Homo sapiens: one gene and its partner. The protein of the gene in region 1 interacts with the protein of each later gene in a pairwise test. Each region holds a gene or a part of one and is shown on either strand. Other genes may lie near its edges.

The links.
Region 2: the proteins of KCTD19 (region 1) and CCDC33 interact in a two-hybrid assay, tested with the Homo sapiens proteins (one large-scale study listed by BioGRID).

What each region holds. Positions count from the first base shown.
Region 1 is NC_000016.10:67,299,037-67,302,848, reverse strand, and holds part of KCTD19 (BTB/POZ domain-containing protein KCTD19), read left to right. Parts: intron 1-926; coding exon 927-1,058; intron 1,059-3,275; coding exon 3,276-3,486; intron 3,487-3,812. UniProt on the Homo sapiens protein: Transcription regulator which is essential for male fertility and for the completion of meiotic prophase in spermatocytes. Regulates progression of the pachytene stage of meiotic prophase and promotes the transcriptional activation activity ZNF541.
Region 2 is NC_000015.10:74,270,651-74,274,462, forward strand, and holds part of CCDC33 (coiled-coil domain-containing protein 33), read left to right. Parts: intron 1-1,052; coding exon 1,053-1,144; intron 1,145-2,120; coding exon 2,121-2,241; intron 2,242-3,812.

The DNA of each region.
Region 1 (3,812 bases):
GCTGGTTGCCAGTCGGCTTCTCTTCTTACTCTGCCCTTATGTATCCAGCTGGTCTTCCGGCCTCAGTTCCTCTCACCATAAAATGAGGAATCCAGATTGTTTCAAAGGATGGTGCTACCTGCTCTTAATGTCAGCAAACTCAGAATAAAAGGGAAGGAGGGTGGATGGTGACAGGTTCCCCCAGAGTCATAGCAGAATTGTCCACTTGAGGTAGTGGCCTAAGGAAGGATGAGATTTTCCACCTTTGACAGAGAGAGCCTCTCTCCCCCTACTGCCCCAGGATGAGCTCTGTTTGGGATGTGAACTGAATGATCTCTTTGACCCCAAGATGCTACTGCTGTCTAGATAGATAGGGCAGTAAACACTCAAGTTACACTAGGAGCCCAAATGTCTGGAACCCCAGTCATTCATATTCATAGTCACCTAGAAAGTTGTCTGTGATGTGCTTCTGTATCTCTAAGTTGATTCACACAGGACATTAGCGTTGGCTCCATCTCTGCCTCCCATACTGCAGTCCAGGCAGGGACAAACTGCAAGTGCCACCCGCCAGCCCAGGCTCGGCCGGGCCCCTCCTCTCTAAGCAGCAAGACAACTCCCTCTTTTGGAATGACCTGCTCTTGGGTCAAAACTCACAGGGTAAGTCTCAGGGCCAGTGTGCCCACCAGGAGGGCCTGGCTTGGGAGCCCCAGGCCAAGCCACGGGAGGCCACACCCACGGCCTCAGACACAGGAAAACAAAGTAATGTGGGGTCTTTCGCCTTGAAAACCACACACTCAAAGCTAATCTAATAAGGTATGTTGATAAGTTGTTTCAGAACAAGGAGAACCTAGGATAAGTTACAGCACCAGAAACCTGCCAAAACCAGGACCTACAGCTAAACCAGAAATAGCCTCATTAACTCACTGTGTTCCCCTTTGTTTTTCAAGTGAATTTTCTTCGCTCACAGAAGATTTTACTACCGGATAATTTCTCCAACATTGATGTATTAGAAGCAGAAGTGGAAATTCTGGAAATCCCTGCACTCACTGAAGCCGTAAGGTGGTACCGGATGAACATGGGTATGTCGCCAGGAAACCTTGGCTCCCCCTCGACAGTCTTGGCTTGACCTGGAAAAGCCAAGAACAATCTTCCCTCCCACAATCACTTCGGGCTTTGGGGGTTAGTGAGAGGATTGGGTTTTCTGGCTGACTCTGAATCCAAGAAGAGGATTCACAGCCTGAAACCCTGTGTGCTGCCCTGCCGGCTCAGCCTTCCCACTGAGGGTGGGGAGTGGGCAACCAGCCAGGGGTGTAGAAAGCCCAGCCCAGCCTGGATCAGGAGGAGCCCAGCCTGGGTGGGGAGCCAGGCTGGAATGTCCTGGGCCTGAAGGCAGGCTTCTCAGGGGCAGGGGAGGTCTGCCCTGCTTGTGAAAGTGGTGGGGACTAAGAGCACCCACCAGCCACTCCCATCCTTCCTCTTCCAGGCACGGTTGGAGGTGTGGGAAATGCTCAGTGCTTCATGCATCTCATCCACCCCCAAATTCCCTCGTCACCTCACGTGGAAACCCCCGGCTGCTGTGCCTGTTTCTGCCTATTCCTGACGCTTGCTGACCCCTGTCCAGCCTAGGCCTTCGTGCTCCCAGCCCTACCTCATTCCAGCTTGTTCTTCCCCTCATGGTTTCCTCAGGGCTGTTCATCATTCCATTTCCCAACTCCACCTCCATGGAAGCTACTGTGCATGTTATAGGGCGCAAGCTACCTGAGCATGGCTTCAGCCACCATCCCGAGAATGTGTAGAACTGCATTGCACATGGGAAGTTTGGCCTGGACATCACCAGACATTTATCCCATGGCAATCAGGCCTTTCCTTATCTTCAGGCATAGATTTCCCAGCCTTCTCCCAGACAAATAGAAACCCATCCTCTTGGCCAGGCGCTGGTGGCTGATGCCTGTAATCTCAGCATTTTGAGAGGCCAACGCAAGTGGCTCACTTGAGGTCAGGAGTTCGAGACCAGCCTGGCCAACATGGTGAAACCCCATCTCTACTAAAATACAAAAATTAGCCGGGCATGGTGGCACGCACCTGTAATCCCACTACTTGGGAAGCTGAGGCAGGAGAATCGCTTGAACCCAGGAGGTGGAGGCTGCAGTGAGCCGAGATCATGCCACTGCACTCAAGCCTGGGCAACAGAGTGAGACTCCTTCTCAAAAAAGAAACCCATCCTCTTTGTGGGGAGTGGCATGCTCCAGCAGGTCTCAGGACCCTGTCCCAGGGCCTTATAATCCGCTTAAGATGGTGTGAGTTCAGCCCCTTCCCTCAAAGCCTTCTACTCCTCAGAGAACATAGATCATTGTGAGATGGTAGCGTAGTCCCTGCTCCACAGAGCAATGCAAAGATGGAGGAAGTGTGTTGACAGCCAGGCTCTGGGAGCTGGCAGCACTCCTCAAACACAAAGGGTGGCTTTAGCTTTCTACAAAGCATCACAATAAGGGAAACAGCTGTGGTAACCTTGGAGCTGGACAGAGCTGACCTCAAATCCTAGCCCTGCCCCTGCCTAGCTTTGCAGTTTAGGGCAAGATACTTCATTAGCCTCTCAGGGCAGGTTCTTCAACGTGAAATGATGATAGCACTATCCCCTCTTGCAGGGTTGCTCTGAGGATTGGAGATGATCCACGAACATCCCCCAGCAGTGTGCCCACTGGCACATTGTTGCCACGGGAGCAGGGTCCTGAAGGCTGTGATAACTGTATTCTCTGGACTGTACCCTAGGCCCACTATAGGAGAAAAAGGTCCCATCCATAAACCAGCAACCCAAATACCCACCCTGAAAATAATGCCACACAGTATGTCTCTGGGGGAAATTCTGCCCAGGAGAGCCAGCAACAGGGGCTGTGAATCCAGGAAGCCTGTAACACACATTGAGTTTCCAGGCCATGGTTGCCGTTCTTTACCTTTGGATGGTTACAGAAGAGCTTGGAACTAATGAAGACTCCTGCAGAGGCTAGGGCCAGATGGCTGCTTTCCTGAAACTTAGGAAATTCAGATGCTAGTGATACAGCAAATGAATCCCCCCACTCCCAACTCACCTCCCAACAAATAGTTATGACTTCTAAGCCTGAGTATACAAAAAAATTATACTAATTTTGAGAAGATCTTGATTTGGACTGTGCAAAGAAATATCCTTCCTCTGAGCCTCCTCGGTACAATGGAGGCAGCAGTAGGAACCGAGCCCCAAAGCCTCCAATCCAGCTATGACCATGGGGGGCCTAGGAGTCACCCCTTTCTCTCTGACACAGGTGGCTGTTCCCCGACCACCTGTTCTCCCCTGAGCCCCGGGAAGGGGGCCCGCACAGCCAGCCTGGAGTCCGTGAAACCGCTCTACACAATGGCCCTGGGTCTGCTGGTCAAGTACCCGGACTCTGCGCTGGGCCAGCTTCGCATCGAGAGCACGCTAGACGGAAGCCGACTGTACATCACAGGGAATGGCGTCCTCTTTCAGCACGTCAAGTGAGGTCCTCCTTAGGGCACACTGAGTCCCATCACCCTTGGCTCTGCCCTTCCCTCTAGGAATAACCTGGGGCCTTTCCCACTAGCCAGAGGTGAAGTGTGTCCTTGGGGCCAGCCCATCATTTTAGCCATTACCATCACCAGCACCGCCACACTACCACCAGGTTAGGGCCTCAAAGGAGAGGGCTAGTGCCAAGGTACAAGGGTTGCCAAGGTTCAAAGGCTTCAGACCATTTCCTATTTCTGTCCTCTGCAGTCCATTTCCCTGGTTCTAGCCCTGTGCTAGGTCTGAGGTGACCAGGCCACAGTCAGGGAGCTGGGTACCT
Region 2 (3,812 bases), on another chromosome or scaffold:
GTGGGAGCCATTGGTGGATACAGGGTGAGGGTCAGGGTCCGGGAGATCAGGGCCTCTTAGGCTGGCAGCAGAGGCGCATGGGGACAGACTCCCTGTCTCCCCTGTCTGCCTTCCAGTGTCCCCCAGGCCCAGACTGAGCAGGGGGTCAGTGAGGGTTGGAGCAAGGTGACGCTGTCCACTCCTGCTTTGTAACCTCCTGCTGGGACCCCGCTCGGCTCTCTGAAAGCTGCGCCAATAGAAGCCTGGAGTAGAGGAGAGGGCAGTCAGGACTGGGAGGCAGGGAAGCCTTTAGGGGGTGACAGAGGACTGAGGAGGGAACAACCAAGGGCGGTCAGGGGAGTGACAACCGGGATCTGATGAAGAAAGAGGAGCCCAGAGATGCGGATGCTATGATCCTGTTCCAAACCAGTACTTCCTGGGGAAACCAGCAAGGCAGGAGAGCAGGCACCAGGGTGAGCAGTGGAGCAGGCACCAGGGTGATGGGCACGAGGGAGGCAAGGGGAGCCTGGCTGTGGCCGCTGATCTCAGGAAGTTCAGCATGGTCGGAGAAACCAGACCTGGGCTTCCTGTCTTCAGTTTATAAAGTGCTCTCTCACAAACGATCTAATCAGAGACCCCTCACAGCCCTGGGAGGAGCCTCATTTGACTGACAGAAACCAAGGAGCTGGAACACCTAGCCCTACCCCTAGCCCAACCCCTCCCCAGGAGCCAGTGGAGGGGCCGAGGTTAGAACACAACCTCCCTTCCCAGGACCCAACTCTCATCGTACCCTTTCTCCCCAAAGAAACTAGTGTAAGAGATCCATTGGTAAATCCCAGGACAGAAAGCGGGAGCAGTTGCCTCAGCTCGGCAGAGAAGGCTTCCTGAGGGAGGGCAGCCTGGTGCAAAGCAAGAACCGAGTAAGGCAGGGAACAGGGAGAAGCAGGTGTCAAGTGTGGAGGCAGCCATGAGCTCACGGATGGGGAAAAAGAGGGTAGGCAGTCTGGCTGGCTGTCTCTGGAAGGTCCCAAGGCCACATGGTGTTCACCTGCCTCCTCTCCTCTCCTCTCCAGATCTTTCTCCGGGGAGTCAACGAGCCCCTGGCCAACAACCCCAACCCCATAGTGGTGATTGCCCGGGTCGTTCCCAACTACAAGGAATTTAAGTGAGTGGGGCCCAGGTGGACCTGGGTGAGGAGGGCAGAGCAGAGGGCAGAGGAGGGGGTGAGGCTGTCATTGCTGCCATGGGCTGATTCCAGGACCTCCGGCAACCCCTCTACCCCTAAGGCCCTTCAAGCCTCTCCATTGGGTCTGAGGTCCCAGTAAGCTTCCTGCAGCAGACCATGCCTTTCTTTCCCCAGGGAGAGCCCAGGCCCCTGGAAAGGGGCAGCTCAGTCCTCTCCTGAGAGCAAGCTGGAGGGCAGGTGGTGGGGATGAGTGCCGATACCAGGCCTAACAGCTAGAGAGTGTGGGGAGGACAACAAGAGGGGTCCTCATTCCCTGCTCAGGGAACCTCAGCCCCTCCAACCTGCCTCCCTGCCTCACACCCACCACCTCCCCACTCCCCCTCCCACTCTAGCTCAGGGCCACAGGCTCCAGCCAGTGGTTGGCCCCAAAGGCCATCTTGGAACTTCACAGCCTTTAGCCCTGCCGGGCGGAGTCTCCTCCCTCCTCATCCTGGAGGTCTCCCTGGTCCCAGCCACAACTCATCCCCTCCTCCCCTAGACCTCCTTTTGAGTCTGTTGGAGTCACAGTCCTCAAGAGGAGATTCATACTTTGCCACACAGTGGGAAATTCCCCTATGAACGTGTGCTCTCTGCCACAGCACCGACTCCTGGGAGTCAGGGTCTGTCTTGGTCACTTCCAACTGGCCCTGATGGCCCAAGATGACTCCCCTACTTCTCTGTATCTCCTGTTGAGTTTTTATGACTTATGAAGCCCCCTTGCTTGTTGGAGGAAGGAAGATGATTGATGCACGCCCAGCCCAGTGGTCCCCACTTGTCGTGAGGTCCAGGCCCGAACTCGGCGGGATCCCTGCAACTCCCTTCTCTTGCATCAACCCAGAGTCTAAGCGGGGGGCCCTGGGCTGCCAGGCTCAGGTGCAGAGCCCAGAGCACTGACCCTGTCTCCCTGCCTCCCCAGGGTCAGCCAGGCTAACAGGGACCTGGCCTCTGTGGGGCTGCCCATCACCCCACTGTCCTTCCCTATCCCGTCCATGATGAACTTTGACGTGCCTCGCGTCAGCCAGAACGGATGCCCTCAGGTATGTCTCCTCCCCAGTGGTTCCAGCTTCCTGTAACTACCCCACACATTCACTGTTCACTCACTCAGTGAGTCAGTCAGCAGTTCCCTTGACTATCGAGTAAGAGTTGACTGAATCCCACGGCATACCCAGTGCTGTGCTCGCCTGTGCGGCAGAGAAACTGCCCTCCAGGAACTCTTGGTCTGGTGAAGATGGGAGTCACGTGGGTGAAAAAGTTGAACATCAACACAAGATAATGTATAATCTAATAACAAACTGGGAGGGCCTGTCAGGGCTATCACATCAGAGGAGAAGATACAAAAGGACAAATATATGATTCCACTTATATGGGATACCTAGAATAGGAAAATTCAGAGTCAGAATGTAGAACAGTGGCTACAGGGGCTGGGGAAAGGGAAGAATGGGGAGTTACAGGTCATAAGTACCTAGTTTCCGTTTCAAGTGATGAAAAGTCCTGGAAATAGATAGTGGTGATGGTTACACAACAATACGAACAAATGAATGCATTTAACATTACCGAACTGTACATTAAAAATGGCTACAATGGTGAATGTTGTGTTACGTATATTTTAACCCAGTAAAAAAATTTTTTTTGAGACAGAGCCTCGCTCTTGTCTCCCAGGCTGGAGTGCAGTGGCGCAGTCTTGGCTCACTGCAACCTCTGCCTCCCGGGTTCAAGCAATTCTCCTGCCTCAGCCTCTCGAGTAGCTGGGCTTATAGGCACATGCCACCATGCCTGGCTAATTTTTATCCTTTTAGTAGAGACAGGGTTTCACCATGTCGGCCAGGCTGGTCTCGAACTCCTGACCTCAGGTGATCCACCCGCTTTGGCCTCCCAAAAGGCTGGGATTACAGGCATGAGTCACTGCGCCCAGCGAAAAATTTTTTTTAATCAGAGGAGAGGGATGTAAAGCCTGGATTAGGGAAGGCAGTCTTGAATTTTTTTTTTTTTTTTTGAGACAGAGTCTTGCTCTTGTTGCCCAGGCTGGAGTGCAGTGGCACCATCTTGGCTCACTAGCAACCTCCGCCTCCCAGGTTCAAGCAATTCTCCTGCCTCAGCCTCCCAGGTAGCTGGGATTACTGGCACCCGCCACCATGCCCGGCTAATTTTTGTATTTTCAGTAGAGATGGAGTTTCACCATGTTGGCCAGGCTGGTCTCAAACTCCTGACCTTGTGACCTGTCCACCTCGGCCTCCCAAAGTGCTGGAATTACAGGCATGAGCCACTGCACTCAGCCGGCAGTCTTGAATTTTTAACAGAGGAAGGGTTGGTACAGGTTGGACACAGCAATAGCACAAGTGTGAGGTGGAGACAGGCAGGCTATGACCCATGTCAGGGCAGACAGGAGGGCTGTGTGTTTGAGTATGAGGTTGGGGGCGGGTGCACGCACAGAACATGGCTGGGTTCAGGGGAATAGCCAGATTGGTCTCTTCTCATGATCTGCGCTTCACTGCCAGCTTGCCCTACACGATGGTCCCAACATTCCTAGGGGCCTTGGGGGACAGAGGGATTTTTGGAGGTCCCTCCTATTGTCTGCCCACCAGTGCTTATGTCTGGCATAGCAAAAATA